Linked DNA regions of Homo sapiens. The protein of the gene in region 2 interacts with the protein of the main gene of each other region in a pairwise test. Each region holds a gene or a part of one and is shown on either strand. Other genes may lie near its edges.

Region 1 (3,409 bases), on a different chromosome or scaffold from region 2:
AAAGACAGGAAGTTTCTGCCTTCTTCCTTGGGTTTCTTTAACATCCAGGTTTGGGGGAGTGTGTGTGTGTGTGTGTTTGAGTGTGTGTGTGTGTGTGTGTGCATAATATTCCTAAGGTAAAGGGCCTTAGGAGATAAAGGTAAATACATATATATATAAATATATATATTTCTAAATATGTTATTGTATATATTATATATATATTTATACATACTATTAAATACAAACATATATGAAGAATATATATTATATATTCATAAATATGTAAATATATATATTCCTATATTACCTATATATAAGGTTCTCTATCTACCCATCTATATATGTATAATATATATATATATTCCTAAGGTCCTTTGGCAGAATATATATATTCCCCCAAACCTGTGTGTGTGTGAGTGTATATATATATATACATATACATCAAAAGAAAATTATGGGCCTAGAAGAATTAAAATCACCCAAGGTCAGACATAATGTGTGTGTATGTGTGCGTGTGTGTGTGTATATATATATATATATATATATATACACACACACACGCACACATACACACACATACATACACACACATATATGTGTGTGTATGTGTGTATATTTATATATAGTGTGCATATTTATATATAGTGTGTATATTTATATATAGTGTGTATATACGTGTGTGTGTATACTATATATAGTATATATATGTATATATATAATATATATTATATATATATATATATATTATATATATATAGCAAGGACACTGGGTCCTTTACCTTAGGTTGGCAAGTAAACCTTAGAAATAGAGGAGATGACTCAATGTGATTGTTAAAGCCAGAGAGACAGGAAGGAAAAGTCAGAAGGAAAATCAGCCCCTCAGAGCAGAGAGCGGAGGGACCTGAACCTTTTAGTATAGCTGATCTCTGTAGCCAATTTCCCCTAAAGGCCCTGAAACTGAGTTTTGGAGTGTTGTTTCTCAAGAAAAAGAAGCATCGATAATTCATGACTTAGATGTCCACCTTAAAACAATTCTGCTTTCCCCAGTAGAACATCTAGAAAATGGGTCATGATTCATTGTATGGAAGGTGGCAAGGAATATATCCTAATAGTATTTGTTTTCATGCCACTGGTCACCTGTTTCACATTCAAACCTTCATTGCTCACTTGATCTATAACAAACATGCCATGAGATTAAAGCACAGCTTTCTCCTCCTGAGTCACCAAAAGAAAATTACGGGCCTAGAAGAATTAAAATCACCCAAGGTCAGACATAATGTATTAAGGAAAATGAGGCTGCAGCACATGGTACCTGCAGGCAGATGTCACATGGCAGCTCAAGGAGGAAGCTGCAGCAAGAGGCACACAAGAGGTTGTTCAAGAAGAGCTGACCTGAAGAATCCTAACACACCAGGGGAAGGAAATAATGCTTTTCTCCATGTTGACAAATTTAAGCAGAAAAACAAACTTGCCTAATTTGATAATTGCCTGCTCATCAGAACAAACAATGACAAGGAAAGAGTGCTGCATCCGATGACATCAGCCCTGAGCAGGGTATAAAAGAGGATCTGGGGCAAGGAGACTTCCAAGCCTTCCAAACCCTCCTTCCTGGAAACCCACCCAGAACCTCCACCCTCTGACACCATGGTCAACTCCTGTTGTGGCTCTGTGTGCTCTGACCAGGGCTGTGGCCTAGAGAACTGCTGCCGTCCCAGCTACTGCCAGACCACCTGCTGCAGGACCACCTGCTGCCGCCCCAGCTGCTGTGTGTCCAGCTGCTGCAGACCCCAGTGCTGCCAGACCACCTGCTGCAGGACCACCTGCTGCCACCCCAGCTGCTGTGTGTCCAGCTGCTGCAGACCCCAGTGCTGCCAGTCTGTGTGCTGCCAGCCCACCTGCTGCAGACCCCAATGCTGCCAGACTACCTGCTGTAGGACCACCTGCTGCCGCCCCAGCTGCTGCAGGCCCCAGTGCTGCCAGTCTGTGTGCTGCCAGCCCACCTGCTGCTGCCCCAGCTACTGTGTGTCCAGCTGCTGCAGACCCCAGTGCTGCCAGACCACCTGCTGCAGAACCACCTGCTGCCGCCCCAGCTGCTGTGTGTCCAGGTGCTACAGGCCCCATTGTGGCCAGTCTCTATGCTGCTAGCCCATCTGCTGGCAAACCACCTGCTACAGGACCACCTGCTGCCACCCCAGCTATTGCATTTCCAGCTGCTGCCAGCCTTCCTGCAGTATCTCTAGCAGCAGTAGCTCCTCCTGCTGTGGCTTCAGCTGCTGCAGGCTCTCCTGCTGCATCTCCAGTTGCTGCCGCCCCAACTGCTGCCAGACCATGTGCTGCCGCCCAACCTGCTCTAGTGCTTCTTGCTGCTGAGGCTGTCATCTGGACTCACCAGATTCTCATCAACCAGCATTCTTGATGTAGCTCATCTATGAGCTGAGTTATGGGAAGCTAGTTGGAAAACTTCAGTTCCAACCAATTCTTAGATTGAATCTGGCCTCCAAATATATGCTCCCCCCACATTTTACCTCTCTACCAAATGAACATAAGTTGTAATTTGCTCTGAAATCTGTCAACTATCTTAATTGAAATATTTGCTCTCTGCCATAATTTCTCATATGGAGCTATTCCATTTTAAACAAATATTTATCTAAATAAATCTTAAATAAATTTTCAGGCATAGAAATATACAGATACTGTGTCTCATTATTTTTCTTTTTTGAGTGTGGTCAATTACCAGTCAATTTTTCTGTTGTTCTTCTCTGCAGAATGTAATTTCAGGGGCACCACCTCTATTTCCTCAGCACACTTTATTCTAATATACAATGGTGGTTTCTTAGAGCAAGCACCTGGAACTCTCTTCTTGAAGAGTTTCTCTAGCCAAGGAGCAAGCTCTGGACTGTAGAGTTAAAGCCTCTTGGAATAGTATTCAACAAATGAGTGAGAGTTGGTGAACACATGCTTTAGTTATTTCTCCTCCAGTTGGGAGCATGTTGTACCAGCATGTCAGTGGTCCTCAGAGACACCAAATTCCAGCTACCTACAGGGCTATTCTGATCATTAACTCATCTTGTATTCACTTCCCTCCCTTTCCTGGAGCATTTTTCGTGTTCCATACAGCACTTCTTGGGACCACCTCCCAAATATACTCCTGGGTCGGCTCCAGTGGGGACCCAATCTAAGACACCAGTGTTCCTAACCTCAGTATTAGTGCCCTTCAAAACATTTTTCCTTTTTTATTGATATGTAGCAGATGCGCATATAAAATTTTGATACATCCATATAATTTGTAAAGATCCAATCAGGGTAATTGGATTATCCATCACAGTTTATCTTTTCTTTATGCTAGGAACATCTGAATTATTCTTTTGTAGCTACTTTGGAATGTTTAATAGATCATTGTTAACTATAGTCATCCTACAGTTATATT
Region 2 (3,828 bases):
ATGTGCCCCCGCTAGGCCGCTGGGTGGCCAGGAGCCTCCAAGCCGCCCACCCTCGAAGACACCGCCCTCTGGGTGCAGGGGACCTGCCTCCGCTCGTCCCATCAGCCGCTAACGCCGTCCGCTTCGTCCCCTTGCTTCCAGCGCCAGCCTTCTCATCGCTGTGCCCTTTTGTTTGCTTGACCCCTGGCCCTCGAAACTCGCGGCTAATAGAAGCGAAGCTCCATTAGCATTTAGAATGAAAAGCGCAGACTTTCTTAATTCCTCGGGGCATTCATGCATTCGTTCCGGACCTTGTGCATTTCCTATGCAACGTGTAAAATTTGTATTTGAGGGGTGGGGGCGGGCGGAGCTGGAAAATGGCTTTTTTCCGCTGGTGAACACTCACTGACCCCCCGTATTCGGGCGGAGCTCGTTCCTCAAGTGTTCTGCTTTCTTTGGTTTTCCTGACTTCGTAAGCTCGGAATCAATTGTGGGGGCAGAGAGATCAATTTCTGGGCAATAACAGGCTGCGCGTTTTTTTTTTAGCCTCGGTTTTGGTGCCACAAAACGGTGGTAGGCGCAGTGGGTTCCAACAACCTTTCCTCGGCTTCCCCGAGGCCGTGTGATGCTTCTTGCCCAGGGGGACTCCTGTACCATTAATCACCCTTAATTTTACGATAATTCTTTGTAATTAATGTAACATTTCTAGAGGTTGCCAACCAATTCCCCCAGTCCCCAATGCGCCCAGCCCGGGCCGTAGTGACCCATCCTGGTCTCACTGTGACCTATGTCCTCTTTCACCTTGCCTGTAGAGCCCACTGCGGAAGAGGGCAGCCCGGCAAGCCCGGGCCCTGAGCCTGGACCCTTAGCGGTGCCGGGCAGCACTGCCGGCGCTTCGCCTCGCCGGACGTCCGCTCCTCCTACACTCTCAGCCTCCGCTGGAGAGACCCCCAGCCCCACCATTCAGCGCGCAAGATACCCTCCAGGTAGGTCCGAAGGCAAGACCCTTTTCTCCTCCCTGGCTGAGGGAAGTGGGTGGGGGAACCACACACTCGGCGGGCAGCGTGGTCGACCTGCCCAGTGCCAGGACAGTGACTGCTGGCCGCGAATTTCACAACACAGGTGGCTTCCTCACAGGAAGCTCCTCTGTATACCACACCCTGTTGCTACTGAGTGGAGCAGCCAAATTAAATTAAGCTTGCATTGCTCAAAATTAATTTTCCTAAGAGAAATACAAATACACCAATAGATTAGGGTATTTTATACATTTTTAATTTCATTTTTGCTCTTCTTTTATAGCCAGTGTGCACATGTAAGAGTTATGGAATCACTTAGAGCAATACTGAGCATTTTCATTTATATAAAACCCAAATCATTTGGGTGCAGAAGTTTGGATGATTGAAGCTCAGAGGGAAGGAGAAAAGCATTTGAGATGAAAACCAAAGAGTAAATTTGAGTTTGGCAAAAGAACAGATTGCACTTTTGGTTTGTACCACCTCTTTACAAATTTGTTAAAGGAATACTAGGTGCCAAGCCTGTGTGGGCACCATAGATAATGCAGATAAATAGAATACAATCCCAGCAAGCTCATCTTCTAGCTAGAAACCTCAGAAAGACACAAATAAGAGCAGTAAAAAGGGATTGGCCGGAAAGAATGACAGAAAAGAGTAATGGAGAAATCCTAGAGGTGCTGAAGGGAGAAGGAGAATAGATCAAAGATCAGGCAGTGTTCTTTCTTTTAAATGATTAGCCTTTCATTTCATCCCAACAACTGGACAGCAAGATAAGTAACTGGACTTCAAACTAGTGAGTGTATTTTTAAGGCCCTGCTTGTTAAAGAAAGGCTTGAACTGGCCTCTCCTCATCACTGCTTCTTCCAACAGGCCCTCATCACCTTTTTTCAAGTCAAGATTTCATCCCATACATGCATGACTCAATCAGATTTGGAAATGTGGGTAAGAGAAAGATGTCAAAGGAAATGTGAAGTATTCACTTCTCTATTAGTCACACCTTTTACACCATAGACTCCAAAGAGGCGTTAAGCACCTGGTTTTCCTTTGGCTCAGAAAAACCAACCACCAAAAACCGCCGTTTTTTACCATTTATATTTAGCCATAAAGAAAGAAAAATAATTAGATAAATCATCCACTACATCCAATAATTCTCAGCGCCTTCTCACTCAGTTCAGCCTCTCTGAACAATAGTAAGCACCCTGGATACCAGCCACTTTGGGGGCAACATAGTCAAACTGGCAGAGAAATCAAGTCTATTGAGAAACTGCTTTTTTTCATGGGTACTAATTCTAGTGTCATAAGGAAATACCTATACTAACTTGCCTATTATGATAGTTATAAACTGTTATCACAAAACAGTCACTGATATGTTTTATTAGTTAGAATTGGGATATATATATGTGTGTGTGTGTGTGTGTGTGTGTGTGTGTGTATATATATATATATGGGTGGGTGTTTTGTTGCAGCTGCTGATCTTTTTCTTTGCAGATGGTACAAACTCTCCCGAGTCAATTTCCTGGGCCTATGTCCCCACCTAGCTGACTGAAGTTATCAACAGGGGTCCAGTTTGTGCAGGCTGCTAGCCCTATTGGAAGAGTGGGGATGAGGTGGGAGAAAGCAACCACAACGTGTGTGGGCAACCTCAATTGGCACTCATAAAATGTTAGAATGTCAACTCTCTCCCTTGGCCACTAAATCTCTCACAGGGTAGTTTTTCTTGCCTAACTCAGGTTTACAAATCAATGTGTATGCCTTGGGGGACCAATGGCCTCTTTCCTCCCAAATAAACCACTGGCTTTCTCTTTGTCCCCCTAGGTTATAGCTGAGGAGCCCACTCCAATTAGTTTATAGGATTCAAAGCCTCTTTTTAAAAACATCTCTGAGCTTATGAGGAAAGACTTCAAGTTTCCCAAATCTAGTGGAGGACAGGGCAAGGGAGGAAAGATAGGTACAGGAGTCCACAGGAGGCCAGGTTTTGGCACCCCTTTGTCAGGAATTCAGCTTCCTTACTAGGGATGAAGAAAATAAGTGTGGGGCTTTGTGTCTATGCTACCAGAAGGAGGAGAGGATGACACTTCCTCTCTGTTTCCCAGATTAGAGAACAGTGAACCCAATGCTGCCTGTTGGCTAGAAAACAAGTGTTAACTTGCTTCTGAGAGACCCTTTTCTCTGTCCCTGCAGATATGCCCTGCGTCCAAGCCCAATATAGCCCTTCCCCTCCAGGTTCCAGTTATGCGGCGCAGACATACAGCTCGGAATACACCACGGAGATCATGAACCCCGACTACACCAAGCTGACCATGGACCTTGGCAGCACTGAGATCACGGCTACAGCCACCACGTCCCTGCCCAGCATCAGTACCTTCGTGGAGGGCTACTCGAGCAACTACGAACTCAAGCCTTCCTGCGTGTACCAAATGCAGCGGCCCTTGATCAAAGTGGAGGAGGGGCGGGCGCCCAGCTACCATCACCATCACCACCACCACCACCACCACCACCACCATCACCAGCAGCAGCATCAGCAGCCATCCATTCCTCCAGCCTCCAGCCCGGAGGACGAGGTGCTGCCCAGCACCTCCATGTACTTCAAGCAGTCCCCACCGTCCACCCCCACCACGCCGGCCTTCCCCCCGCAGGCGGGGGCGTTATGGGACGAGGCACTGCCCTCGGCGCCCGGCTGCATCGCACCCGGCCCGCTGCTGGACCCGCCGATGAAGGCGGTCCCCACGGTGGCCGGCGCGCGCTTCCCGCTCTTCCACTTCAAGCCCTCGCCGCCGCATCCCCCCGCGCCCAGCCCGGCCGGCGGCCACCACCTCGGCTACGACCCGACGGCCGC

Evidence for each region.
Region 1: the proteins of NR4A3 (region 2) and KRTAP4-4 interact in binary tests that used the Homo sapiens proteins (3 or more experiments, as listed by UniProt).

What each region holds. Positions count from the first base shown.
Region 1 is NC_000017.11:41,158,909-41,162,317, reverse strand, and holds KRTAP4-4 (keratin-associated protein 4-4), read left to right. Parts: upstream 1-1,569; 5' UTR 1,570-1,626; coding exon 1,627-2,127; 3' UTR 2,128-2,669; downstream 2,670-3,409.
Region 2 is NC_000009.12:99,824,868-99,828,695, forward strand, and holds part of NR4A3 (nuclear receptor subfamily 4 group A member 3), read left to right. Parts: intron 1-791; 5' UTR 792-965; intron 966-1,862; exon of another isoform or gene 1,863-1,903; coding exon of another isoform or gene 1,904-1,934; intron 1,935-2,480; exon of another isoform or gene 2,481-2,599; intron 2,600-3,173; coding exon of another isoform or gene 3,174-3,175; coding exon 3,176-3,828. UniProt on the Homo sapiens protein: Transcriptional activator that binds to regulatory elements in promoter regions in a cell- and response element (target)-specific manner.